Homo sapiens: one gene and its partners. The protein of the gene in region 1 purifies or fractionates together with the protein of each later gene. This does not show direct contact. Each region holds a gene or a part of one and is shown in the gene's direction. Other genes may lie near its edges.

Evidence for each region.
Region 2: the proteins of PODXL (region 1) and SPAG9 purify together in Homo sapiens (co-immunoprecipitation; 3 studies listed by BioGRID and IntAct, with this or other methods). This does not show direct contact.
Region 3: the proteins of PODXL (region 1) and LGALS8 purify together in Homo sapiens (affinity purification with mass spectrometry; 3 studies listed by BioGRID and IntAct, with this or other methods). This does not show direct contact.
Region 4: the proteins of PODXL (region 1) and HSPA12A purify together in Homo sapiens (co-immunoprecipitation; 3 studies listed by BioGRID and IntAct, with this or other methods). This does not show direct contact.

Annotation. Positions count from the first base shown.
Region 1 is NC_000007.14:131,553,612-131,561,050, reverse strand, and holds the start of PODXL (podocalyxin isoform 1 precursor), read left to right. Parts: upstream 1-4,422; 5' UTR 4,423-4,691; coding exon 4,692-4,791; intron 4,792-7,439. UniProt on the Homo sapiens protein: Involved in the regulation of both adhesion and cell morphology and cancer progression. Functions as an anti-adhesive molecule that maintains an open filtration pathway between neighboring foot processes in the podocyte by charge repulsion.
Region 2 is NC_000017.11:50,984,847-50,991,868, reverse strand, and holds part of SPAG9 (C-Jun-amino-terminal kinase-interacting protein 4), read left to right. Parts: intron 1-1,200; coding exon 1,201-1,419; intron 1,420-1,996; coding exon 1,997-2,192; intron 2,193-4,631; coding exon 4,632-4,757; intron 4,758-6,090; coding exon 6,091-6,171; intron 6,172-6,878; coding exon 6,879-6,946; intron 6,947-7,022. UniProt on the Homo sapiens protein: The JNK-interacting protein (JIP) group of scaffold proteins selectively mediates JNK signaling by aggregating specific components of the MAPK cascade to form a functional JNK signaling module.
Region 3 is NC_000001.11:236,526,975-236,533,996, forward strand, and holds part of LGALS8 (galectin-8), read left to right. Parts: intron 1-7,022.
Region 4 is NC_000010.11:116,739,547-116,747,313, reverse strand, and holds the start of HSPA12A (heat shock 70 kDa protein 12A), read left to right. Parts: upstream 1-4,747; 5' UTR 4,748-4,844; coding exon 4,845-4,884; intron 4,885-7,767. UniProt on the Homo sapiens protein: Adapter protein for SORL1, but not SORT1. Delays SORL1 internalization and affects SORL1 subcellular localization.

The DNA of each region.
Region 1 (7,439 bases):
CTTCAACTCCTCCAAAACCCAGTTCCCTCCTCTGGAGCCTTCCTTGACCTCCCCGGGTGGGGCTGAGCCATCCTGCTCTCCGCTTCCCACATGCCCACCCGTGCCATGTGTTACAGCCCCTACTACATGTTAGTCATGTTTGTGTACAGGGTTGCATTCTCAGCACAGTGCACCGAACCTAGCACACTCTGCCTATTAGGGTAGATATTATTGAATAATAATACATAAAGGCATGACTTTGGGGTGAGCTGCCCAACTTGAGTCCCAGCTGATATTCATAGAACCGCACCACTTGGCAGTCAGGGGTAACCCAACCTTGGAGAGAAAATCCAACCACTTCTTCATCTATGCAGCATTTGAATGTCATGCACCTGTTTGGGGTCAGACACCACCATACTGGGCACTGGATTCCAAGATGAATTAAACACTGCTTCGACCCACAAGGAACTCAGAGGTCAGTGATTAGAAAGCCCAGGTAAGAGCATCCCTGGCTCCTTATGTGTAGGAGCTGTGGCTCCAGGATGGATACATGTGTGCACTCATCTTTTCTTGGGGGATGTGGTAGCGGACGCTTTGTCTCACCCCTAGATGTTGTGACTGGGGATCAGTATTACTTAGAATGAGGGTCAAGAGGACTTACTGAGTCTGCACATAAGGATGCACTTAGGTAAACAACATCACCAAATTGCACCTGGGGCAGAGAATTATGGCCCCTAACATTGACAGCCAGGGGCCATGGAAAAATGTGTAACCTTGTGCCATGGGTTCCTGCGTAATATCTTCCAGGTGACATTCATATTTGCATTCAAGATCTGTATCTATAGATCTGTATCTGTATCTATATGTATGATGTTGTAACTGAGGGAAAGGCCCAAACTGGGCTTGCTCTGTTGATAACAAAATGTCACGTTGCTCCAGCATAAGCAATAGAAAATAGTTGGAACTCTAACAACAACCCCAAAACAATGAATTCTCCCTTGGAACTAAAAAGACTAAGAGACTTGATGGGAATCCGAATGCCAGAACTCTCTCAGAAGCCAGACGTACAATGGCTTGGAAGATGTGGGGCTAAAAGTCCGCCTCAACATACCTTTCTGTAAATGGTCAAATTTAAAGCCCTCCAATCAGATTCTGCCAAGCCAACATTCCTAAATCTTTTCATTGCCTTCTGATCCCATAAATTTACCCCAGGCCTCAAACTGGGGAGACATTTTTTCTTTTTTTTTTTTTTGAGATGGAGTCTTGCTCTGTTGCCCAGGCTGCAGTGCAGTGGTGCAATCTCAGCTCACTGCAGCCTACACCTCCCAGGTTCAAGCAATTCTCCTGCCTCAGCCTCCTGAGTAGCTAGGATTACAGACGCATGCCACCAAGCCTGGCTAATTTTTGTATTTTTAGTAGAGATGGGGTTTCACCATGTTGGCCAGGCTGGTCTCAAACTCCTGACTTCAGGTGATCTGCCCACCTCAGCCTCCCAAAGTTGTGGGATTACAGGCATGAGTCACCGTGCCTGGCTGGGGAGACAGATTTGAATTCACTCCTGTCTCTTTGCTGACCAGTTTTGCAAATAAAGCCGCTGCTTTTTCCAAAGCTAGTGCTTCATAGTATTGGCTTCTGTGCCCATGGGGCAGCAAAACCATTTGCTTGATAAAAATGCGGTGGCTCTCGCCAGTAATCCCAGCACTTTGGGAGGCCGAGGCGGGCAGATCACCTGAGGTCGGGAGTTCGAGACCAGCCTGACCAACATGGAGAAACCCCGTCTCTACTAAAAATACAAAATTAGCCGGGTGTGGTGGCAGATGCCTGTAATCCTAGCTACTTAGGAGGCTGAGGCAGGAGAATTGCTTGAACCTGGGAGGCGGAGGCAGCCTGGGCAACAGGAGCAAGACTCTGTCTCAAAAAAAAAAAAAAAAAAAAAAAAGTGATGTGCTGTTCTTGGTGGTCTGAGTAAGTAAAGGATGAATAAGAAAGACGCCATGTTAAAGAAGCTGAATGTCTGCTAGGAGAGCTAACGCATGTATACAAATAACCAAAATGCAACAAATCCCAGAAGGAATGATCCTGCAGAAACTTCCTGATGAAAAGCTTCAAAAACAGCACCCATAAAGTGCTTTGGGTTTCAAATATAAGCTCAGGTGTTCTGGGCTGGCGAGCTTGCTAGTTAGAGCACAATGCTAAATGGGGCCAAAGGCACAGGCCAGTTACCTGGGGGTAGCTCATCTCAGTGGCCACCAGTGACCTCAAAACCCAGCCAGCCTCATTCCAGAAAGCCACGTTGTGCATAAGTTGAGGGGGGCTGTTGGATACTGGGGAGAGTCCAGCACAATTGTAACTTTTCTATGTCTTCTCTAAGCCCAGATGTCTGCTCTCATTTTAATTTTGCATGATCTTGTAATGGCACCAATCCCAAATCATGTGAATTTAAAATGCCCTAAGCTTCAAAATATACGCTCTCTCTTTATAAAGTTAACATGATTGCTTCTGAGTTTTTAGATAAATTGAATGATTGAGTGCAAAAACACTGTTTAAATCAGAGTGCGATACACATTTTTTAAAATCCCAGTGTAAAAAAAAATATATATATATATTGCTTGGTTTCAGAAGAGAAACAAGCCTTTTGTTGACATGATATCAGGGGAACAGTACTAAAAAAACATCAAAGATAGTCACACACACAAATATCCCAGAGTATTCATAGGGAACACCCTCTGTCTTTCCCATATGCGGTGTGGAAAACGGGGCCAGAACGATCCTGCAGAAACTTCCTGATGAAAACAACCCCGTCAGCCCTTCCCAAGCTTGAGGCCGGCTGCCACGGAACCCCAGCCAGGGCTCCAGCGCTTCCTTCGCGGCTCCAGGGACGCAGTGCCCTGCAGGCATCGCCTGCTTGCAGCCGACTTGAGGGGCTCACGGAGTCCCCTGTGCCCGGGACGCGGCTAGATCCTGGAGAAAACCCCTCCACCCAGCCCCATCTGGCAGATAGACTCCAGATTAGCAACCCCGGAGTCACGTGAGCCAAATTTACGCCGTACCCGGGTTCCAAGGTTAATCACCCCTCGCCCCCTCCGCTTCCCGGCTCCGCCGATGTGCCTCCTCTTCAGGCGGGCCTGGGGTCTGCGTCTCCCAGGCAGCTTTGGGGGTGGAAAAAAGGAGGGGAGCGGGGGAGGGGAAAGGAACTTCTTTGTTCTTTCACCGGATAAACTCAGTTTACGGAATTCTCCAACACCCACTCCCACCCCCAGTGTGCAAATATCTCTGATCCTCACTTGGAGGGCGAACTACTTCATTCATTGAGACTTTTGTGTTCCTGGCCCTAGGCTAAGTATTATCTTGTAAGATCACATTTAAGTTTCCCAACAACCCCCTGAGGTAGGTGTTATTATCCCTATTTTACAGATAAAAAGAAATGAGGTACTGAGAATAGCTTGCCTAGGGTTTTACAATTAATAGATTGGCACAGTTAGGTTTTGAGCCCCAGCCTGTTTTGACCCAAAAGCCCTAATCTTTATAGCTGTTCTTTATATAGCAGGAATAAGAGTAATAACCACTCCTTGCAGAGCAATTACTATATTCCAGGCACGGTGCACGGTATTTCTCCAAACTTCTCTCAGAGGCAGGTTTGCCACTTACCCGTTATGTGGCCTCAGGAAGTTTCTTAACCTCTTTTTGACTCAATTGCCCTGTCTGCAAAATGAGGCTAAAAATATGGTTGTCATGAAGAGTAAAAGAATTAATATATGTAAAGCCTGGCACACATTCATCCCTGAAATTGTTGTTGCTGTTGTTTTTTAACCATCATCTCCATTTCACAGGTAAGGAACCTACCCTTGGAGAGGTGAAGGAGTGAATTAGTCCAGCTTGCCCGCTGCACACCTAGCTGCAGAGAGACCCCGCTCAGAAGCCGTGCGGGATGGGGGCCCCACAGGCAGGTGAATTGCACTTGGCAGGTGGGAGATGAGCTTCTCCGGGGTCGCTGCAGAACGCGCAGCAGCCCGGGAGGCCGTGAATGGTTATCAGTTACCACGCAAGGCTGGGGGTCCGCCCGCTCCGGATTTGCTCGTAGTGCGAGGGCCCCGGCGGTGTGCTGGGGGATCCCGCCGGGCCCACTTAGAAGCACTCGGGGGGACACACCTGTTCGGGACACCTGTGGACGGGGCCCGGCTGCACCGCAGGAGCCCCCCGCCCTGGCCCCCGCGCACACACAGCCCCCCAAGGCGCGGAGGCCGCCGGCCCTCCCGCCCGTCGCGCTCCAGGGCGGAGTTTCCTCCTCTGCTCATTGTTCACGGCCCAGCGCCCGCCCAGCCCCGGCCCCGGCCCCGCCCGGCCCGGCCGCCGCCGCTGGCGGGCTCCTGGGGGAGGGGGAGGGGCGGGGGCGGGGGCGGGGGCCGGCGCTGACGGGACGGGCCAGGAGTAGCCGCAGCCGCCAGTGGGGCCGCAGCCGCGCAGACGCCGCCCAGGACGCAGCCGCCGCCGCCGCCGCTCCTCTGCCACTGGCTCTGCGCCCCAGCCCGGCTCTGCTGCAGCGGCAGGGAGGAAGAGCCGCCGCAGCGCGACTCGGGAGCCCCGGGCCACAGCCTGGCCTCCGGAGCCACCCACAGGCCTCCCCGGGCGGCGCCCACGCTCCTACCGCCCGGACGCGCGGATCCTCCGCCGGCACCGCAGCCACCTGCTCCCGGCCCAGAGGCGACGACACGATGCGCTGCGCGCTGGCGCTCTCGGCGCTGCTGCTACTGTTGTCAACGCCGCCGCTGCTGCCGTCGTCGCCGTCGCCGTCGCCGTCGCCCTCCCAGAATGGTGAGTGGCCGGCCTGGGTTCCGCCGGGACTCCCACCGTGCCCATGTGCCCCCTGCCCGGCCGAGCTGCAGGGAAGCCCGGCGCGCCGCGTGGTCCGACCCCGAGCAGCCCTATCACCGCCGGGGTCACACACGGAGCCCTGACCTTGCACCATCCACGCCCCCTCCAAACTCCGCAGCGCGGCAGGTGCAGGGCCTGGGCGTAGATTCGTCTCCACTCTCCACTCGGGAGGAGTGGGCGGTGGATTCTGCCCGGGCAAACAGGGGCGCGCCGGTGCTAAGTGGGTTTGCATGGGAAAGAAAAGGGAGACCGCACCGCGAGGCTCCACGCTTCTGCGGGACTCTCGGGATCTGATTACACCTTTCCTTCGTGTTGGAGGGAATGAGGGGCTGTAGTGTGTATTCGTTAATTCCAGGCAAAGAGGCAGGCGAGAGGCTCCCGAGGAAGTCCCTGAAGCAGGTGACAAGCCTCCAGCCACGGCCCACGCGGGCGATGTACTTACCCGTTTGCAGAGGTTTTTTCTAAGTAATGTGTGCAGGCTCAACTCCTTGAGCCCGTGCTGGGGCAGGTACAGAGTCGTAAGTGGACCTTCCACAGTCCCAGAGTCACCTGGCTGAGTGGGGGTCCTACCTCCGTGTCCCTAAAACAATCGCTTCTTAGTGCGTGGCTACGATGGTGAGACCCCCCTCGAATCCTCTTGTTCAAACGGGAACTTGTTCAAACGGGAACTTCTCTCTCGTAGAATAGGATTGGGCTGCATTTTAGACACACCTTAGAAAATGTACCTGTCTCTCATGAAACACCTGCACCTCAGAAACATCCCCTCCCTGTTTCTTTTCAAGGTGAAATGTTACTCTTTCCCTTTTGGGGGACAGGCGATGGCTGCAAACTCAACCAGAACAGGTGTTCTTAAGCCCCTAGGGAACAGCCAGAGTCAGCTCAGCCCCACGGGAGAGGTGCATTTCTCATTCTCTTTTGCCCACCTGAGCACATGTCTGCAGGAAGAGCTGAGGTGGTGTGATCACCCTAGGGCCAGGAGGACTGCGGGGACAGCACAGACAGGGTAGGGATTCTGCTGTGAGCAGGTGCCGGCAGTTTGGGACTGGACTCTAAGGGGCCAGGGGAGATGGAAGGGCAGTACAGTCTCTCCTCTGCACCGCAGGAAACCTTTGGTAGTGGGCAGGCGCTGGCACTCAGGGAGCAGGCAGGCGTGGGCATCCTCCTGTGGCCGGCGGGAGACTCCACCAGCCTGACTAGAAAGGGAAGGTCCCGGCGGGGGGAAGAATGTGTGTCCCTGGAAGAGGGGCTGCAGTGTGAGGAACAGTCAGAACAGCTTTCAGAGTGGCAATCACTGAAGAGCCACACGACATGCAGGGTTGAGATGACACGAGAGTATGGTGGCTCCTTAGCCCTACTCTGGGGACAGCTGGACTTCAGGGTGGGCCTTCATACGAACCTTTTGTTGGGAAGCCTCTTAGAACCACCCAGAAGGGCGTTGGGCTGTGTCAGGAAAGAGGGGTTAGTCCCTAGTGCTTCTGAGCTTAAGGAAGCTGAGCCACCCTTCCTTTGAGGAGTGGGAGGCACTGTGGGACAAGACCCTCCCTGTCTGCCCTAAAAGGAAATGTTCATAAGTCACCAGTGGGCAAAGCTCTGACTCCAGCTCACTGCTGGCTTCAAGGATGGCACTGTTTTTCCTGGCACCTGGGCACTGCCAGAAACCATGTCTCTTCCATGAAGCACCACTTCTGGCCTAACACAGGGTTTGGCACATGGCAGAAGTTTGGTATGTGGCAAACAAAAATGACCATAACCCAGTGCCTGCTCTAACCAGCAAGTAACTTGGCCTATCTGAGCACTGTATGCATTATAGTATGCAGCACTGTTGGGAAGCACTTAGAAAAGTGCAAAGTGCTAAGTGGGGGATGGGGAGAGGATGATGATCATGATGGTGATGATGATTTGCATGTATTGAGGCCAGAAAAGGCTTGTGGGGGGCATGTTGCGGCAAGATTGGTCTGTTCAGTAGCTATGGTGCATTCTACACCACCCTCTAGGGACTCAGTAAGGCCAGCTCCATCCCTGTCCTTCTGAAGGTGTGGTCGCCTGGGCTGCTGTCATCGGGAATAGCATAAACACTGCCCCCCATCTGCTGGAATCCTGTGATTTGATTCAAAGCAAGAAAGATTTATAGCTCGAGTCTCTGCAACAAAGGAATTATCCCCAGACAGGTCCATCCCTGCCCCTCTCCCCCAGCTTACCTTCCAATATATGGGCAGATTATGCAGCCTACAGCAAAGAAAGCATTCACCTTAAGGGTTGGACAATTCATCAGACCCCCTTTCAGTGCTTTTTGGTTTGATAACCATCTGGCAGAACCACAATGGTAAGTCACATCTCCGTGCCTCCGTTTCGTTATTTGTGAGATAGAATAAAAGAACCAAAGGGACCTCTAGTTCCACCATGATAAGATATCTGGGGTTCCGTGTTCCCTCAGCTACTGAAAGGACAAGCTGATTCAGTACTCTCAATCTGATGTTCAATGGATGAATTCTGGGCAACAGAAAGGCAGCTTGGTGGGGTGGAAACACTCAGACTTTGGGTCAGAGAGATGTGCATGACCATGGACAAAATAGTGGACCTCCCTGAAC
Region 2 (7,022 bases), on another chromosome or scaffold:
GCGGATCACCTGAGGTCAGGAGTTCGAGACCAGCCTGGCCAACATGGTAAAACCCCGTTTCTACTAAAAATACAAAAATTAGCCAGGTGCAGTGGCAGGCGCTTGTAATCGCAGCTACTTGGGAGGCTGAGGCAGGAGAATTGCTTGAACCTGGGAGGCAGAGGTTGCAGTGAGCCGAGACTGTACCATTGCACACCAGCCTGGGCAACAAGAGTGAAACTCTGTCGCCAAAAAAAAAAAATAATGGTGATGGCTACACAATGTTATAAATATTAATGCCAATATTGTAAATATTAGTGCCACTGAATTGTACACTTTTAAATGGTTAAAGTGGCAAATTTTGTTTATATATATATTATTTTTACTGCAATAAAAGTTTTTAGTGTGATATAAATAAAACAATTTTCTAAATTAAAAAATGAGATTTATTTTTATATTGTAAATATTTTTATATTATAAATGCTTAGTTTTTAATGTTTTACTAATATCTTAATCAACCTATATACTTGGGGCATTTAATTTTTAACAGTAATGGATAGAAGCTTATACTTCAAGTAGTAGCAGTAGTCTTGATGATTTAAAAGAATTTTTTTTTGGCTGATGTTGTCAGATATAATAGATTGTTTTTAACCTGTGGCTGCTGAGGAGCTCACTAAGAACAGAAGCTGGCTAGGCGTGGTGGCTCGCACCTGTAATCCTAGGACTTGTCTGAGGTTGGTGGATCCCTTGAGGCCAGGAGTTCAAGACCAGCCTGACCAACATACCGAAACCCTGTCTCTACCAAAAATACAAAAATTAGCCAGGCGTGGTGGCTCACACCGGTAGTCCCAGCTACTCAGGAGGCTGAGGCAGGAGAATCACTTAAGCCAAGGAGGCGGAGGTTGCAGTGAGCTGAATCATGCCACTGTACTCCAGCCTGGGCGACAGAGTAAGACTCTGTCTCAAAAAAAAAAAAAAAAAAGTTTATTTTCTGACATTTTTATGTTTATTTGCACTTGTGTTAATAGAAGTATTTTCTTAATTTTTTAAGTTACCTTCCCATATTGTGAAGATTTGTTTATGTAAATTTAATGCTACCTGTATTCAACTACCTGTACATCTCACCTGCATAACTCTCATTTCAAACCTGTAATTGTTTTAGTAAAAAAAATGTTATTTATAGAAGTTTACTTTGCTGTTACAAGAAGATTTATTTTTCAGGTGCACGAGAAACAGACTACCCTGCAGGAGAAGATCTTTCAGAATCTGGTCAGGTAGACAAAGCATCTTTATGTGGAAGTATGACAAGCAACAGCTCAGCAGAGACAGACAGCCTGTTAGGAGGCATCACAGTGGTTGGTTGTTCTGCAGAAGGTGTGACGGGAGCTGCCACTTCCCCTAGTACAAATGGTGCTTCTCCAGTGATGGATAAACCACCAGGTATATCCATTCTCTTTACCTGCCATCTGTATAGAGTCTAAGGCTACACTCAGATGCCTCATTATGGACTTAATTTAGATCTTAAGTAACAAGGTTGAAAGAACTTGAAAGAAGATACTGTAGGCCGGGCGTGGTGGCTCACGCCTGTAATCCCAGCACTCTGGGAGGCCAAGGCGGGTGGATCACGAGGTCAGGAGATCAAGACCATCCTGGCTAACACAGTGAAACCCTGTCTGTACTAAAAAGTACAAAAAATTAACCGGGCGTGGTGGCGGGTGCCTGTAGTCCCAGCTACTCGGGAGGCTGAGGCAGGAGAATGGCGTGAACCTGGGAGGTGGAGCTTGCAGTGAGCCAAGATCACGCCGCCGCACTCCAGCCTGGGCAACAGAGCAAGACTCTGTCTCAAAAAAAAAAAAAATGCTGTAATGACTGTTAAATGGAATGAAGAATTCTTAATTTCATGGTACAGTGTGAAGGAGTGGGTAGATGGAATGGAATTCTATAACAGGGGTTTGTGTGGGGAAATAATTGGAGGAGAAAAGCCCAGACTTGGAATAGTGTTTTATTTACTTTGTAGAAATGGAAGCAGAAAATAGTGAGGTTGATGAAAATGTTCCAACAGCAGAAGAAGCAACTGAAGCTACAGAAGGGAATGCGGGGTCAGCTGAAGACACAGTGGACATCTCCCAAACTGGCGTCTACACAGAGCATGTCTTTACAGATCCTTTGGGAGTTCAGATCCCAGAAGACCTCTCCCCAGTGTATCAGTCGAGGTATAATAATGGGTCATCAACTTAGGCAACTGGGTGAAGTGCACAAATAAAAGGAACCAAAATAATCTCAAACAGTCAAAAGATTTCCACTAATTAGTGTCACTGTGGTGGATTAAAAGATACCTATTCTTGTGATAATTTCATGTATTCCCGCTCCATCATTCTCGCTGGATATTCCCCCCCATTTCTTCTGTACACCTTCCAATTTAAAAAAAAAATCTTATCTATAAAAGTATAATCATGCATCAGTCAACAATGGGGATATGTTCTGAGAAATGTGTCATTAGGTGATTTCATCATTGTGTGAACATCATAGAGTGCATTTACACAAATCTAGATGGTATGGCTTATCACACACCTAGGCCATATGGTATAGCCCATTGCTCCTAGGCTAGAAACCTGTACAGCATGTTACTGTACTGAATACTGTAGATAATTGGAACATAACGGTAAGTATTTGTGTATGTAAACATGCACAAGGTACTGTAGAAATATAGTAGTATAATCTTGTGGAACCACCACCATATATTCTGTCCATCATTTTCCAAAATGGTTTTACCAGGTGTGTGACTATATATTAGTCAAAATCTTTCTGTTCATTTTCTCCTCTGATCTGTTTTTTTTTCTTTTTTTTTGTACTTACTGTCTTCCATTCTATAAGTAATTCTTTGTCATTTTAATCCCACCCCTACTCTAATTTTCACTCCAGTTATCAGCAAAATTGGCCATTGTTTAAATCTGCCATTGTACAAGTTTCCCACATGGGTGTGGATGACCTTTTTGAATTTAGTTTTCATGCAAATATTTTATTAAAAAACAACTCAGATAGTTCCAGTGGCTCATGCCTATAATCCCAGCACTTTGGGAGTCTGAGCAGGAGGATTGCTTGAGTCCAGGAGTTCAAGACCAACCTGAGCAACATAGTGAGACCCTCATCTCTACAAAAAACTTAATGATTCGCTGGGCGTGGTAGCGTGCACCTATGGTCCCAGCTACTCAGGAGGCTGAGGTGGGAGGATTGCTTGAGCCCTGGGAGCTGGAGGCTACAGTGGGCCATGATATCACCACTGCACTGCCGCCTGGGAAACAGAACAAGACTCTGTCTCAGAAAACAAACAAACCAAAGAAAACTGTTTGTTTTAGGCTCCTCCGTTAAAGGGTTGGTTAATCTAGGCCCATTTAGTGAATTATTTTATTTTCTTTCCTGCCTTTTCTAGATCCCCTCTAGATGAGAGTCTCTTTAAACTAGATCCTTTTTAAAGTTTAATATTCTTAGTGTATAAAGTAAGAAAGATTAATTAATAACCCATTTATGCCTAGTGGTCCATTATTGGAATGCTAAGCTTGTGGGAGTTATTCATATCCTACTGCTCAAGGTCATCGCTAAGGTCTGATTTTTTACAAAAAAAATTTGCAACCTCCGGCATAAATGGGTTAATATTTAATTCTTTTTTTTTTTTGGAGATGGAATCTCACCCTGTCACCCAGGCTGGAGTGCAGCAGTGCAATCTCAGCTCACTGCAACCTCCGCCTTCCAGGTTCAAGCGATTCTCCTGCCTCAGCCTCCCAGGTAGCTGGGATTGAAGGCATGTGCTGCCACACCCAGCTAATTTTTGTATTTTTAGTAGAGATGGGGTTTTATCATGTTGGCTAGGCTGGTCTTGAACTCCTGGCCTCAAGAAATCCACCCACCTCACCCTCCCAAAGTGCTGGGATTATAGGCGTGAGCCACCGCACCTGGCCTGAATTATTAATTTAAGAATAAGTCATGTTTGAATTTGATAGCCTGGTTATATATCTTTTACTAAATATGCCCTGACAATTCAAAGGAAAGGTTTTGTGATAGAATATTAAACATATTTCAGTTTATTAATTTATTTTAGGTCATTCTTTATATTTCTCCCTACTATTTGTATGTGTGTATCCCTCCCTTCTCTCTCACTTGAGAAGAAACTATGACAAAACCCAAAATAAGAGACAGCCATAGTAATTGTCTGAATATTAACTGCTGTATTTCATTACCATGTCTTATTATCTTTTCTGCTCCTTGGGCTTCCTAGTTTGTTAATGTTATTTCTGGTACAATTGTTGAAATATGTGATGTAAGCTTTTGACTTTGGCTTTTCTGGAATTTTGGTGGTTTCTTTTTTTTTTTTTGACTAAAAGTTGAAGCCAGGTGTGATAGTGTGTGTGCCTCTAGTCCCTGTTATTCAGGAGGCTGAAGTGGAAAGATCACTTGAGCCTGAGAGGTCAAGGCTGCAGTGAGCCCTGATTGTGCCACTGTACTCCAGCCTGGGTGACAGAGTGATACCCTATCTCTAAAAAATAAATAAATAATAAACAAATGAACAAACTTAAATATAGAAGGATTCAGTCCCTGAAAACTATAACGATAGTTAAGTATACTCAGATTTCTTTCCTTTTGCCCTCCCTTTCCAGCAATGACTCAGATGCATATAAAGATCAAATATCAGTACTGCCAAATGAACAAGACTTGGTGAGAGAAGAAGCCCAGAAAATGAGTAGTCTTTTACCAACTATGTGGCTTGGAGCTCAAAATGGCTGGTAGGTGTCAATGCTTTTAACATTAGAATATGTTGTTTTACTTTTGCTTTTGAAATCAGAAGATAAGTAAAATATGGTAAACAAATACAAAAAGTGTGGATTAATGCAAAGAATTTTATATATACACACAATTTGATGTTATGTTGCAACTACCACATAAACTGGACTTGCACTGGTTCTGAATAGTAAGCCATATGTTTCTTTGTCACAGAATGTTCCCTTTCTATAATATTCTTGGAAGAAGAGGTATGTAAAATTTTAAAATCGAGGTGCTCCAGAAATAGAAGATCCTGAACAGCACAAAGACAGAGAATATTTAATTTATGTAGGCTAGAATGTGGGCAGGAAAACAGGGATTAAACCAACATTTTGGCTGCAGGAAGGCCCAATCCCAACTTTTAGTGAATTTTTTACTAAGATAGGTAAAACAAATCACAATCTGCAAAGTCAGATGATGATGACTAATATTATATGGTTTGTTCACTTTCCGGTTGTGTGGAGAGTTTTACAAAATTGTGCATTTACAAAGGTTAAGCAAGATTACTGTTGAGCATCTCTAATCCAAAATTTAAAACTCTTTGACCACTGTTATGATGCTGGCAGGTAATGCTCATTGGAGCATTTTGGATTTTTGAATTAGGAATACTCAACTGTTATGTATGATGTAAACATTCTAAAATCTGAAAAAGTCAGAAATCCCAAGCATTTCAAATAAGGGTTACTCAACCTGTAGTATGTCTTTTTCATATGAGTCCAATACTATAAAGTGAAGAGTTGGCAAACTTAGTGTAACTCTCTTCCAGTAGAGCATTATGGGCATTGTAGTTTGAATTTCATATAAATCTCCCCTGTCGTAAAATACCCTTGATTTCCCCCCCACACACACTTTTAAAAATGTAAAAAGTATTCTTAGCTTGCAGGCTGGATTAAAACAGGTGGCAGACTGGATCTGGCCTGTAGGCCATAGTTTGCCACTCCCTATGTGGGCCACTCTGTCATCCAAAAGTTATAGATCAGTGTAGTAGAGAGGTAAGGCAATTCAAAAAAAGAGTTTTGCCCAAGGACTAAGTGTGTGAACCTGACTGTGCATTGCACTAGTTCTTGCTTTTCAGTCTTCATATGTTTTTCTTTGCTCAGCAGCCTATTTCTTTACCTTAGGCCTACCCTCACTCTCATTTTTCTTTTCTGACCATTGCACAAAAGCAGCAGCACCTTTTCCTAAAATTTGTATGTTACTCTTCTTTCCTTCTGAATGAACTTCGCGATCATTGTTAGATATATGCAATGTCTTGATGTTCTCTATGCCTTACCAGTGTTGACTTTGTTCTTACAGTTTGTATGTCCATTCATCTGTAGCCCAGTGGAGGAAATGTCTCCATTCCATTAAACTTAAAGATTCGATTCTCAGTATTGTGTAAGTTTTATTTTGGAAATTCTTCTTGTTAAAACTATGCATTTTGGTATAAACTAGATTTTAAGACTTTGAAAGCTAATACATGTTTCACGACTAAATTAGTATCCAATTTGTTTGTTTTTTTAACCCTTTTTATGGAACTAGAGAAGTTAAGTGAGAATGAAACTGTATAATAGAAAACGAAGTAGAAAGGATAACTTGCTTGATTGAGTCCTCACCATACTGCGATTTATTTAGCACTGCAGGAAATAACCAATACCTATTAAGTTATGTTTATTTTAGAATATTCTTTATGGCTTGTAAATATGTTGATTGGGGCATTGATTACTAGTTCTTTTCTATGTGTTCACTGTAAAAAAATCAGACAGTTTATCTCTGAGCCTACAGGGCTGACTCTGTTGGTTCCACTCAAGGTGCATGTCTCTGGTCTTTAGAGTTTGTGTTGATTGTCTGTGATGAGAGGAGAACCTTGGGCCAGAAAGTGAAATAACTGAGATACCATTCATACTGTTTATTTAGTTCAGCTGACATTTTTTCATAGCAGGACATCCACAGTGAAGAAAGTGGTGTGTTCATTTATATTCAGGTGTCAGCTCCTTAACTCATCACAGATTGGCCCTTTGTGAGGCCTTGAACTAGTTCAGTAGCATGTGGTCCCTTCTGTATTCCTGAATGGAGAGTTCTGAACTCCCCTTTCCTGTTTGCAGACACGTGAAGGGAATCGTGTTAGTAGCCCTGGCTGACGGCACCCTTGCAATCTTTCACAGAGGAGTGGGTGAGTGGTGATGTGTGTATAACATGGACACTAATTTGTTGCTTTGCAAAGCATTTTTAAGTAGATTGGTTTATGT
Region 3 (7,022 bases), on another chromosome or scaffold:
TTTTAGGAGAAATAGCCTTTCAGTGGTAGTAAGTTTAAAAAAGATGACTTCCTGAAGCGGAAGCTTGTGAGACATTTAAGATGACTTTGCGCATGTTAGAGTTAAAAACATCCCAAGGTTGTAAACTGATTTCCTGCAAAGATCTTAACAACAACAACAACAACAAACTAGGCTGCCTGCCACGGGTGTCTGAAGTATCATCTTGGCTCAAGCTGGGAGAATGGATAAAGGTTACACTGTTCATTTCTGCCCTTCACACAGAAAAGAAGATAATTTTATAGGTAAAATTCGTGCATATCTTGATTCTAGCATACTGCTGATTCCTGTAGTTTCTGGGGTCAGTACTCTCAACTATTGAGGTGGAACAAAAATAAGTAGACTTCATTTCTTGAGGAAGGGGATCTGGAGAAGTAGTTCTGCGCTAGAGCAGAAAATGCCTTCAGTCTTGTGGCATGGGCTGGATGCTGTTCTGAGGATAATGCATTTCCAAGGGAGATATTTTTGGCAAATAGCTTTTTTTTCTTTCTTTTCAAAATTCTCTGTTTTATTATCAGTTCTCACAAAAGAGTCGGAAAGGTTAGAGGTAGACTGAACTGAATGGCAAAAACATTTTGCGCTCTCTTTACGTTTCACTGCTGTAAAATATTTATAGTATAAAGGGCCTGTATTGCACTGAATTTCTCTCATTTGTAGCTAGTTGCCCTTTCAATGTTCCAAAAAAAAAGGCTGTAAATAACTTATTTTATTTATTCAATTAATTTTTTTTTTTTAATTTTTTGAGATATAGTTTCCCTCTGGTCACCCAGGCTGGAGTGAAATGATGCAATCTCGGCTTACTGCAATTTCTGCCTCCCGGGTTCAAGCAATTCTAGTGCCTCAGCCTCCTGAGTAGCTGGGACTGCAGGCACGTGCTACCATGCCCGGCTAATTTTTGTGTTTTTAGTAGATATGGGGTTTCACAGTGTTGGCCAGCCTAGTCTCAAACTCCTGACCTCAGGTGATGTGCCCACCTTGACCTCCAAAAGTGCTGGGATTACAGGCGTGAGGCACCATGCCTGGCCAACTTAGTTATTTAAAGATAATCAATTAGTATATTTTATAAGCTAGACTTAGGAAAACGGTTTTCAGCTGGGCATGGTGGCTCACACCTGTAATCCCAGCACTTTGGGAGGCCGAGGCAGGTGGATCACGAGGTCAGGAGTTCAAGACCAGCCTGGCCAAGATGGCGAAACTCCGTCTCTACTTAAAAATACAAAAATTAGCCAGGCGTGATGGCAGCCTCCTGTAATCCCAGCTACTCGGGAGGCTGAGGCAAGAGAATCACTTGAACCTGGGAGGCGGAGGTTGCAGTGAGCCGAGATGGTGCCACTGCACTCCAGCCTGGGTGACAGAGCGAGACTCCATCTCAAAAAAAAAAAAACCCCCCCACACACAAAACCTGTTTTCTTGAATCATGGTTGTTTTGTTACTGATAGGTTCAATAAGTAAATATATTTATTGTCTGTTGTATTCTTTATTAGGCATTATAAACACACCGCCACTTTTTAATTTTTATTTCATTAATGTTTCCAATTTTTTTTTTTTTTTTTTTTTTTAAGACAGAGGCTCGCTCTGTCATCCAGGCTGGAGTGGAGTGGTGCAGTCTTACCCCACTGCAACCTCCACCTCCTGGGCTCAGCCTTGTAAATAGCTGGGACTACAGGCATGCACCACCATGCCTGGCTAATTTTTGTATTTTTTTTGGTAAAGACAGAGTTTTGCCATGTTTCTCAGTCTGGTCAAGCACTCCTCCCGCCTCGGCCTCCCAAAGTGTTGGGATTACAGGCATGAGCCACCATGCCTGGCCTATTTCTAATATTTTGGTCCACATTGGTGTTAGACCAACTGTCCACATTAAGTTTTCTTGGAAAAGATGAAGTAAATATTGCAACTGGCCTATGTATTTTTTTCCCTATTTAGTATATTTCTTTGACTAGTTCAACTGATAGAATTCCAAGACTTAAAAAAGTCAGGCTCTAAGGCTGGGTCCAGAGGCTCATGCCTGTAATTCCAGCACTGTGGGAGGCCAAGGCTAGTGGATCACTTGAGCCCAGGAGTTCAAGACCAGCTTGAGCAACATAGTGAGACCTTGTCTCTCTATAAAAATACAAAAATTAACTGGGGATTGTGGCGCATGTCTGTAGTCCCAGCTATGAGGAAGAGTGAGGTGGGAGGATTGCTTGAGCCCAGGAGGTTGAGGCTGCAGTGAGCTGTGAGTTTGACACTGTGCTTCATTCTGGGTGACAGAGCAAGAACCATGTTCAAAAATAAAAATAAAAAGTCAGAGTCCGGGTGCTGCGGCTCATGCCTGTAATCCCAGCACTTTGGGAAGCCGAGGCGAGAGGATCACTTGAGGTCAGGAGTTCGAGACCAGCCTGACTAACACAGTGAAACCCCGTCTCTACTAAAAATACAAAAATTAGCCGGGCATGGTGGCGGTGGCCTGTAATCCCAGCTACATGGGAGGTTGAGGCAGGAGAATCACTTGAACCCGGGAGGTGGAGGTTGTAATGAGCCAAGATTGCACAACTGCACTGCATCCTGGGCGACAGAGTGATACTTCATCTCAAAAAAAAAAAAAGAAAAAAAAAGTTAGGCTTCCTTTTCTGTTTTTTTTTTTTTTTCTTTCTTCTCTTTTTTTTTTTTTTTTTAAGAGATGGAGGCTTGCTCTATTGCCCATGCTGGAGTGCAGTGGTGCAATCTCGGCTCACTGCCACCTTTGCCTCCTGGGTTCTAGCAATTCTCCTGCCTCAGCCTCCCGAGTAGCTGGGACTACAGGCGCACACCGCCACGCCCCGCTAATTGTTCTTTTGTATTTTAGTAGAGACGGGGTTTCACCATGTTGGCCAGCCTGGTCTCGAACTCCTGAGCTCAGGCAATCCGCCCGCCTCGGCCTCCCAAAGTGCTAGGATTATAGGCGTGAACCACCGTGGCTGGCCACTTACTTTTCTTTCTATTGAATTTGAATGAATAATTTGGAAGACAGTATCTTTACTTCATACCAGGAATGCTGCCAGTGAAATTTCTTGTTTGGCAGTTCATTATCTACCTATATATTTAATTTTGCTATTGTTTATAGAGTTCTTAAGATATGATTAAATGCTAGCTGGTTAAGAAATCATTTAGAAATGAAACAGAATTGGTTGTTACTCCAAGTTAATAAGTTGCTTGTCAACATAAATCCTACCTGGTACCCAGTTTTCTTAGGAACCTTGCTTCCATGTTTATCCTTTTCTGCTTAGTATTCTAAGTACTCCTTTTTTACCTTACAATTTAGTCTTAAAACACAACACAGTCAAGTCTTTCTTTTGTAACCTGTGAGATACCTTCTAGCCTTTGTGCTGTTTTTCTTCTCTTTTTGCTGCCTGCCTTCCTGACTGAGAGTGGATTTCCTCACTAAGGCTCTGCCCTCTGATTTTTCACTCTCTTTTCTTTTTTGGTTTTACTAGTGAAATTTTGTCTTTAATGTCTCTTTCTTTTATGTCTTTACCGATCACTCATAGATTTTTTTTTCCATATGTATCCAGTTCCAACCTTTCACCTAATGTGAACCCCCAACTCTCAGTTGCTCAGCCAGCCCTTCAAGACTAGGAGTTCAAAACCAAACTTGCATCTTCCTTCCCAAACCAGCTTTCCTCTTGCAGTTTTCTGCAGCAGGATCCTTCTGCTGTTTAACTTTTGCCTCCTCCCTTGTTTCCTAGCACCCAATAGTTGGAAGATAGTCTGTCTTCAAAATTTTAAACTACATTTATGTCCAAACCAGTGGCTTTTCCTTTTAAAAAAATTTAAAGATAATATGTGCAAATCATTTTTTTAAAATTCAAACAGTATTTAAGAGTTTCAGTGAAACATGCATTTTCCTTCTACCCTGGTACTTAGTTTTACTCCCCAAGGGCAATCACTTTTTACTGGTTTTTAGAAATATATCCTTCCTGAGATACTTATGAATATCCAAAAGTGTGTGTGTTGTGTATATCACCTTTTATATATCCTGTCTCTTTACGTGCATGCATTTTACCGTATAAACTGTTTTCTACCCTGCTTTTTCTATTTGACCTATTTTGGAAATGTCATTTTATTTAGAACTTCCTCATTTATTTTAACAGCTGCATAATTAGCAGTAAAACTTATGTAAGCAGTCCCTTGTGAAGGGCTGTGTCTTTTTGCGATTATATCCGGTGCTATAGTGTACATCCTTGTGTGTGCATCTTGGTGTGCCTGTGCTACGTATTTCTGTAGGATAAATCTGTAAAAGTGGAATCACTAGGTCAGAGGGTATGATCCATTTTCTTTACTTATTTATTTTATTTATTTATTCATTTATTTTTGAGACAGAGTCTTGCTCTGTCGCCCAGGCTGGAGTGCAGTGGCATGATCTTGGCTTACTGCAAGCTCCGCCTCCCGGGTTCACACCATTCTCCTGCCTCAGCCTCCGGAGTAGCTGGGACTACAGGCGCCCGCCACCCACGCCTGGCTAATTTTTTTGTATTTTTAGTAGAGACGGGGTTTCACCATGTTAGCCAGGATGGTCTCGATCTCCTGACCTTGTGATCCACCCATCTCAGCCTCCCAAAGTGCTGGGATTACAGGTGTGAGCCACCGCGCCCGGCCCCATTTTATTATCTTTATTTGCTTGGATCCTTCTTAGCTTCTTCAATGTTAAAGATATTGACAGTTTTCCTCTTACTGAAATTTATAAATCCATTGACTCCCTTGATATTATTGCCCTGGCCTGACTGATTCTTCTCTCTCCTTTCTCTTCTCACCCCATGTTGAGGTCCCCAAGGTCACACCCAGTTTTGATGACTCACCAGCATAGAGTTGTACTTGTGCCTATGATTTATTGCGGTGAAAGGATATAGAGCAAAATTGCAAACGGAAAGGCACCTGGGGTGAATTCCAGGGGAAATCCAGTGCAAGTTCCAAGGTCGCCTCCCAGTGGAGTCACATAGGATGTGCTTACATCCTCCAGCAAGGAGTTGTGACAACACTTGTGAAATGTGGACTGCCAGGGAAGCTCATCAGAGCCTCAGTGCCTAGGGTTTTTACTGGAGGCTGGTCACATAAGCACCCTCACACATATCAAAAAATTCTGGTCCCCCAGAAGGAAAGCAGGTGTTTAGCATAACCATATTATTTGCATGAACAGTTCAGGTACAGGAAATCCCCGTTACCAGTTAGGTTGGTGGGTGCCCTTCCCAAATCCCAAGTTCCCAGACACCAGCCAGGGGCCTGCCTCGTAAGGAGGCCTTTCCAGGACAGCAGTCAGGCCTGCCAATGTTAATTCTTTTCTGCATACCTCCTAATTTTAGAAACCACCGAGCCTTTGCTGCCTGACCTGTCCTGCTTTTCGATTTCTTTATCTACTTTGATATCTTTACAAATGATCTTTACCCTGACTTTTAAATGTGTGCTCTGGCCATTCACCTAGCGTGTGGTTCTGAGTCTCCAAGTCTTAGCAGATTTGCTCTCAGATGCTCTGCCAACGCTTCACACCAAGTATTACAAACTAAACTCGTCATCTTCCTCCTGAAACCTGTCTCCCAGGCCAGGCGCGGTGGCTCACACCTGTAATCCCAGTACTTTGGGAGGCCGAGGTGGGTGGATCACCTGAGGTCAGGAGTTCGAGACCAGCCTGGCCAACTTGGTAAAACCCCATCTCTACGAAAAATACAAAAAAATTAGCCAGGCGTGGTGGCAGGCACCTGTAATCCCAGCTATTCAGGAGGCTGAGGCAGGAGAATCGCTTGAACCCGGGAGGCGGAGATTGCAGTAAGCCGAGATCACGCCATTGCACTCCAGCCTGGGCAACAAAAGTGAAACTCCATCTCAAGAAAAACAAAAAACAAAAAACAAAAAACCTGTTTTCTCCCCAGCTTTGTCATGTATTTAGTGGCCTTATGTAGACAGTTTCCTTTGAAACATCTCTTGGACTTCTCTGCTCTTCCAGGGCCATTGCCACTGACCTGGAATGTGTCCTTATCGTTTCACGCCAGGCTTATGGCAGCAGTCAGTCACCCAGATGACCTCCTGACCTCTGGCTTATTTCACCCCCACTGGACTGTTGTTCCTAAACACTTCTTTCGTATGTCACTCTAAAATCTGACCCTGGCTGTACCTTTCTTTAACTACTCCCTGACTGCGTGCTGAGAGAAGATGGGTCTTGTCTTTTCCTGCCTCTCTGCTTTTGTAAACTGCCATTTCTACCTGAAGTGGCAACTGAAATCATATCTTCTTCATAAACTGTCTTTGGCTACCTCAGTTAGAATTCCTTATCCCATTTTCCTGAAGCATTTCTTTGACTCTTCTTTACTGCTCCCCCACCCTTTTTTTTTTCTTTGAGACTGAATTTTGCTTGTTGCCCAGGCTGGAGTGCAATGGCCCGATCTCGGCTCATTGCAACCTCCGCCTCCTGGGTTCAAGTGATTCTCCTGCCTCAGCCTCCTGAGTAGCTGGGATTACAGTCATGTGCCACCATGCCCGGCTAATTTTGTATTTTTAGTAGAGATGGGGTTTCTCCACGTTGGTCAGGCTGGTCTTCAACTCCCAACCTCAAGTGATCTGCCCACCTTCGCCTCCCAAAATGCTGGGATTACAGGTGTTAGCCACTGCGCCTGACCCCCATTTTTTTTTTTTTTAAAGATGTTGAATTGGTCAGGGTTTGTAGTTACAAGCAACAGAAGCCAACTCTTTAAGCAGAAAAGGAATTTGCTAAATGATAGTGCAGAGTTCTCAGAATCTCTAGCAGGATGAAGAACCAGGCTTGGAGAATAGGTAGCCACAGATACACAAGCATACTGTAGGACGGTTCCCATGAAGAGGCATCTGTTGTCACCACTGGACACAGATGGTACTGTGTCTCTGCTACTCTACCAATGCCACTGCTGTCTCTGACCCCAGATGTAGCTCCCTCTGACCCTGGATGCAGCTCCCTCTGACCCTCGATATAGCTGCCCCTGACCCCGGATGTAGCTGCCTTTGAC
Region 4 (7,767 bases), on another chromosome or scaffold:
GAAGGCATTTCTAAAGTTTACATTGCAGTCCTGAGTGATGGTGATATTTGGAGCAATAATTTCCTCTGGCCCTTGAATTTTTGCCTGAAAGAGTGGCTCAGCAGCTCACATTGTACATGTGAAGGTTGTTTTGGAATGTTAATGGAGAGACCGATTCACACCAGATGGACTGGAAGACCAGTGAGGTGGGGAGGATGTATACACTGGCCACCATGATTCAGCTGTAAGGCTGGCTTTTTAAAATGCACTGACAGTTGGAGGTCAAGGCGGCTGACATTTGCCCAGGTTTTCTCTGCAAGTTTTTATGTTGCTTTAGCAAATCTGAATCTTGGTCCTGTTATGAATTAGTCTCTTTTATGATATTCAGTTCATGGACAACGTTCCGCTGGCATATCCTAAAGTCCAAAGCAGCTTTGACGGGCAGTGTCCTATGTCAAAGTTCAGATATGAACTCATATCAGTGTTTCTTAAGCTTAACAAAAACATAAAAGAAAAATTAAAATGGAAAAAGCTACTCATATCTTCTGTGTGTCTTTATCAGCCAAGAAAATCTTGCCTGGATCCATTCTGTAATTTATAATATACAAGGAAATGGCATTTTTGTGTTCAAATATATAAATTAAATAAGTCATATTAACAGTGGCATATATAGGCTGACTCTAAATGGAATGTTTTACATATATGATCTCTTATAATTATGATACCTATCATTACTGGGCCCTTTTGACAGGTGAGGAAACAGACCCAGAGAGGTATGTCCCAGGTCCCCTGAGGTGGGCAGGGAGCAGCTGAGCCCACTTGAGCCCTGGTCCAGCTGACCCCATGCTCTCTGCTTCCTCCTGTTGTACTTTTCTCATTCTTGGTCCTGATGCATCCCCCAGGGCTCACTGCCCTTAGCATCTGGTCCATCAACAATTATCCTCAGTTTCTTCTGAGCTGGGGGCCAGAGGACTCAGCTGCCTCCCCTACCCATGCTGTGCATCATGTCCAGCCCTTTCCACAGTTGGTAGTTATAGCAGGTGACAGAGTGCCCTGGCTGTCTGGTGCAGTTAGCTGGGCCTGCCTCTGGACTCTGACTTCTATTTGCATGAATGGATGTGGTGGGGGTTTGTTTGGGGGCTGAAGAGCAGAGAGGGAGTCTGTTGGCAGGGAAGCGTGTGTGGGGCTGTGGGTGAACGGGATCCCGGAGAGGATGAGAAAGGCCTGAAGCTGAGGAGGCTGTTTTCCATCAATGTTTTGCTCTCTGCGCCAGGCACCATCCTAGGGTCTGGGGGCTCTAAATGTGGACATGGCTGGTCCCACTTTGGAGAGCTGGCAGCTAGAGGGGGAGGTGGGTGACCTGAAGCTGGAGAGACCTGAGTTCTGGTCTCAGAGGTCTAGTCTCAGCACTGCAGCTTCTGAGCTCAGTGACCTTTCTGTATCTCAGTTTGGTCATCTGTACAATGGGGTTAACAATACTACTGACCTTGGAGTTGTTGTGATAAGTGCTAAGATAGGAGTGATGGGGGGTTGGGCACAGAGGAGAGAGGAGGGGCCTCATGTGATCTTGGAGGGCTAGGTGGTGTCCTGGAGGAAGTGCCATCCAAGCTGAGGCCTGTAGGAAGAGACAGGGTTGGTTACCTGGCAAAACTAGAGGAGAATCGGCTTCCAGTGGAGGCACTGGCTCTTTGGGGACCTGAGGGCAGGCCCTTGAAGCTGGAGTGACCAGCAGGAAGGGAACTAGAAGGTGGTCACTTGGCTCTGGGCTGGGCCACTTTTTAGGACTTGAGTATCCAACCGAGATGTGTAACATTCTCTCCACCAGCTACCACAGTCTACAGCCTGTGGAGGGTGTGGAGGGTGGAGAAGAGATGGTATAGAGGGTGCTGCAGTGTACCCACAGAGAGCACTGTGAGGAGGAGTCTTTGGAGGGGAGCTTGAGGGAACTTGGTACAGAGCAACCTCCCAGGAGTCTGGGCGTGCCCTGAGACAGCTGGGGCTGTGGAAAGGCATGAGCCCTGGGGGTCAGCAGAATGTCTGTGTGCTGGGCTGTGTTCCCGCTTCACTTACTGATTCAGCCAGTCAAGCATCAAGGATTTATTAAGTGCCTGCCATGTACCAGGCGCTGTTCTAGACACAGAGATGCAGAACTGGCAACACAGTCCACGATCTTGCTCTCCTGGGACTTACTTCCCAGTGGGGGCGAGGCAGCAGTTTTAGATAGAGTGTTCTGGGAGGAGCAAGCCACGTGATTGATTCTCTTGAAGGATGTGTCCGGGGGAGTGACCCCCCAGGTGGGGCCTGTGTGTGTTTGGGCTTTGGGGGGAATGGGAGAGTGGAAGGAGCTGAGGTCACTGAGGCATCAGGAGGCCAATTTGTGTAGGACCTGGTAGCAGGAGAATGACATGCTCTCTCTCTGGCTGCTATTGGGGAAGAAGACTCCAGGGAGGAAGGTGGGAACCCTTCCTTGATGTGGCGTGCTGAGCCTTGAACCCCAGCCTTGCTGCTGATGGCCAGAGGATGCCTGAACAGGTGCCTCAGCCTTTGAATGCTTCCTTTTCCTCTCCTGCAAAACCGCAAGGGCCACCATGAGAACTAGGTGAGACCACAACAGCCCCTCGCTGGCGGGCTGGATGGTGTGCTCAGCAGGGCGCGTTGTAATTAGTGTGATGAGCATGAAGGCCGTGAGGGCAAATCCCAGGCAGAGTGTGCGCTGCCTTTCATGCTCCCCTGCAAATCAAAAGTGTTCTGCTCTCTGCCCCCAGCACTGGGGCCTGCATGTCACCTCCCATCCTTCTCACGCACCCTCATGTCACTGTGGCTGGGAGTCCCATGAGGGCACGTGGCGCCCAAGGCCCTTCCACAGCAGGAGGCAGATGTGCAGGGGCTACGGGTTTCTGCTGCTTCTGACAGGCTGTCAAGGCCAATGTCCTGATGCCCTGGTCTGATGGGGAGGAACGAGTGCCTTGAGGACACTGAGGAGGGCCCCCCTGGCCAGCATGGGTATGCAGGGGAGCCTTCCTGGAGTTGGGCAGTCCATGATGAGAAGGAGAAGTTCTTAGGTTGCTGGTGGTGGTGAAATGAGAGGACGGGTGATCCAGGCATCAAGCACATTTTCATGTCTTTGAAATACCAGCATAAGAGAAGCAGGGGTGGGTGAGAGGGATTGAAGAATCAGAGCGGCTGTAGCTGGAGCTGGAGTAGGGTGGGGACAGACCAGATCACAAAGCATGGACTGAAGGGGTGAGACAGGAGGGCGGGGGAGCTGTGGGCAGGCTGTCGCAGGCACGTAGGCAGGAAGGGCCCTCGGGGGCCATCAGTGACTTAATGATTTTTACCATGTGCTAGATCCCAAGCTAAGCATGTTACATGCATAGTCTATCTAATCTTCAGTTTTATGAAGTGGGTTCTCCTGTTATACCCATTTCGCAGATGAGAATATTGAGGCTCAGATAGGTTAAATAACTTGACTGTGGTTTCATGCACAGCCAGGAACTGTCCATTTGGGATTTTTAATGCAGGCAGACAGAAGACAAGTTTTGTGTTTTGAACTTGTCACTCTGCCATCACCTTCTGGTCTCCAGGCTCTCGCAGCAGCTCTCTGCCCATTCCGTCATCCATAACGCTCTCGCAGCAGCTCTCTGCCCACTCCGTCATCCAGAACGGGATTGTACGATGAAGCCTCCCCTAGGTGATCTTTGGGAAATGCCACCCATCTCTGGAAGTGAGGGATGCTGGTGGTTACAGCTGGGTGGGAATCCCAGCTCCGCGACTCACCTGCTGGGTGTGATATTGTAACCCTGCCGATCCTCAGCTTCCTTATCTGCAAAATGTTAGTTATGGGGAGGAAAGGAGATAGAGGTAAAGCACCAGGCAGGTAGCACAGTGCCAGGCACCCGGAAACGACCCAGTGACGGTGCTCCTCGGATTCCTATTACTGCCCTCGTTTGCCAAGGCAGGGTGGTGACACCGCGGACCCAGGGGGTGCCTGGCCAGGCCCAAACAGGTGCCAGCGGCGCGTGTGTGTGGAGGAGCTGGGGACAGGGAGTATGAATCATTCACAACTGAAGCCTTGCATTATTAATATCGTTATTCTCAGACTTCTAAGGAGGGCCCAGCTGGATCCCATATATGGAAGGCGCGACTCAGCCTCCGGGGCAAGCACCTCCCTGGGTCCGGAGTTGCCATGGAGTCCCGCAGGCGGCCTGGAGGCGGTGCCCCGGGCTCGGCCCCCGCGCAGGTCCTTGGTCTGCGGCCTGGGTCCTGCCCGCGCCGGGGTCCACCCAGCCCGCCTTTGCGCCGGCCCAGGGCCGCTCCCCTGGGACCCTGGGGGACAGACAGAAGCTGGTGGGGACTGGCGCGGGCGTCCTCGGGAGAGCGCCGGGCGCGCTGGGCTTGCTGAAGGGCTCCAGGCCTGGCCATTCGGTGACTTCCAAAGAGGGGACGCGCCGCGGGGCCCCGAGGGCCTGAAATCCGCTCCCGCAGCGCAGCCCCGGGCGCGCCACTACCCCCGCCGCGGTCGACTGCGGGGCGACCGCTCGGTCCCGAAGCCGGGAGAGGAGAGGCCGGGCCTCGGCGGGCCGCTCTGGGCGGGCGGGGAGCGCAGCTCCGGAGCCAGGCAGTTCCCCGCGCCCGCCTTCCCCGACCTTTCCCGGCCGGCCCGAGCTCGGAGGGGCGGGGCGCCGGGCGGGCCGGGGCGGGGCCCGGGGAGGAGCCGTGGCTGCGGCGGCTGCCGCGTCAGAGCAGCGCTCCCGCTGCCCGGCGGCTCAGACACGGCCCGAGCGCCGCCGCGGACGCGGACAGAGACCCGCACGGGCACGGGCGCTGCGCTGGAGGCTCCCCTCGCGGTCCGGGGCTGCGCGACCATGGCGGACAAGGAGGCCGGCGGCAGCGACGGGCCCCGAGGTGAGCGCAGGCTGCGGGTCCTGCGGCCGCGGCTGGCGGGGCAGGGAGGGAGGAGGCGCGCTTGGCCCAACGCTCCGCACCCCCTCGCGCGCCGTGGAAAAGTGGGGACGCCCGCGCTGCATCCAGTTCTGGCGGGCGGGGCCGGGGTCAGCAGCAGCGGGGCCGGGGGCCGGGGTCCGGTGGACCGGAGACGGCCCGCGGGTCACATGTTCTGCGCCCCGCCAGGGTGCGGACTCCGCGGCGGGGACTGCAGCCCCCGCTGAGGCGCCTGGTTGGTCCCTGCCTCGGGTGGCGCCTCCTGCGGGGCTGGTCGCGCGTGCGGGTGAGGACCGCCCCGCGTGTGCAGCCCCCGCGCGATGGGCTGCGGAGGCCGGCGCTGGCTGGGTAAAGGGCCCGCCGCCGGGTGGCCGGGTGGCCCCAGCGGGTAATTTTCGTGACTCAGCGAGGCAGGAGTGGGAGCCTGGGGGAAATCGGAGATTTGGACCTGTTCCCTCGCCCCATCCCACCCCGGCCGGACGCTCGAGCCAGGAGTGGGGGCTGCAGCTGCGGCCGAAGGGCTTCTCACCCACCTCCCCGCCCATCCCCAGGGACTCACTGGGCTGGGGAAGGGTGAAGCGGCGGGGGTTCGATGGTCCCTTCCTTGCGGGGGGCAGGGGGAGGCACCCAGTGCGGAGGACAGACGCTCGCATTTTGCAGATGTGCTAGGGCCGCTTTCTTTGGGGAGCGTGATTAGGGCTCCGAAGGGTGGGGGAGCCGGAGAGGACGGGGAAGGGGGTTGCGGGAAGAGGACGAGCAGGTTTCGGAGCCCAGGGCTGTAAATCAAGGCTTCTCCCACGGAGGGCCCGGCTGGCCAGGATTCCAGTCTTCCTGTGGGTCCCAAGTGGGGAAAGTTGGGCGCATGGAGGCGCCGCGCGTCCCTGACCTGCAGGGCCTCGGCGAGAGCGGCCGCCGGGGAGAGGAGCGCGGCCCAGGCATCTTTCCCGGGAGCGACAGGCAAGCCGCCTGCGAGGATGATATTAAAATGCCGGGACGCAAGGGAGATTCAGCCACGAAACGAGCGCTTGGCTCTGCGGGGCCCCAAAAGCTGGAGAAACTGAGTCCAGTGGCAGCACAGCCACCATCTGCGCTGGGTTCCCTGTCTTGCTGTCGGGCCTGCGGCCCCCACCCTCTGCTGCACTCCAAGCCGCACCTGCCCCCACCCCAGCCCATTGTTCCTGCGGATCAGGGAGGTGCCTCCCCACGCGGCACTGCAGTGGTGGGGGAGTGCAGGGTGGCGGGTGGGGGATCCTGACAGGGCTCACTCCAGGGAGAGGCAGCGGAGAGCCCAGGCCGTCCCCAAACACACACCCAGTCCCCGCCTGTACTCTTCCTCAGCTGGTGAACGCAGGCAATGGACTGGCAGCTGTCTTTGTCTGAACATCACTCAGCAACTGGATTGACTCTTTTTTTTTTTTTTTTTTTTTTTTTTACTTTTTTCCTTTAAGTCAGAAAATAAAAAAATTTTTAGGACGATAAGTAGGGGCGTTGAATTGCTAAAGCCTGAGAATTACTGAGCCAGTTTCTTGCCTCTCATGCTGGGATAGGGTGGGCGATGATACCAAATACAAGGTTGGGCATAGGATTTGTCAAATCAGAAGTGGGCAGGAATGTGTACCCACTCCCCACACCTTTCCCAACACTGTTTTGTCTTGTAAATCAAATTCAGCACCCCTATCCTAACACACACACACACGCACACACACACACACACACAGACACACACACACACACACACACACACACACACACACACGGTGCTGGGAGAAATCCTGTCCAGGATGGGGACACCCATACCTGGTGTGCCGAGCCACCTGCCACCGCTCTTCTGCGTTTGTTCTGGAGTATTTGTTTCTTCACTTCCAGTCATCTCCAGCTCAAGGTGGCCAGTGAGAATTCCAGGTGCATGGACTTAGGACAGAGACCAACCTGAAGAGCGGGCTGTCCCTGGCAGCTCACTGTGCCTCTGGGCACCTCTCCCTTTATCTGTAAAATGGAGGATGTGAATAGTATTGCATAGGAGCAGAGTTGGCTTGCCCCTGGCCCCTACACTTATTTCTAAGGTTTCCTCATTGCTGGGAAAAGAGCGTGCATTATTTTATTGTTTTAAAGGCTCACAACAAACCTGTTACCAGCATTCTCCCCTTCCTGGGTGGGAAATCCAAACACAGGTTGAGTGACCTATCCAAGGTCACACATCTGGGAAGTGTTGTTTGGGACCCAGGCCATCTGATTCCAGGGCACCAACCTGTGCATACAGCCCTTATGCATGTGTGCAGTGGTTACCACTCTATTAAGGACATAAAAAAATGGTTGTGCTTCCTGGGAAGGATTTCCAGAATGTTTTTGGTACAAAAGGATGGGTGCCACAAATATCACACTGTTGGAATTTGTGAGCAGTGGCAGTCCTGGGTTGGGGAGGGGTTTGCTGGTGGGTAGGTGGTGTTGGGGGGTGGTGTCAGAAAGGCTGGCCATGAAATCTTCTCCAACAAGTGCAGTTGGGGTGGGGTGGGGAGTGGGCAGAGGTGCGTGCCAATGAAACAAGAATGGCAAAATGTGGTAGTTGGGTGATGGGGAGCGGCGGTTCATTACTATTCTGCTTACTTTGTGTATGTTTGCAAATTTTCTTAATAAGATGTTTAAATTACTTAATTTACAAAATCTGAAGGGCCACACTTGAGGGTCTGGGTGTTGGACAGCAAAATTTGAGATGACCTTCAATCCTGCCCCCTCCCGCATGACCTGAGTGGGTTGACACATGGAGCCCTAGAAGGGTGAGATGAATTGGGGGTGGACAGAGTGGTTCGGACAGGGATGGCTCCTATGGTGACCAAGTCAGGGCTAGAC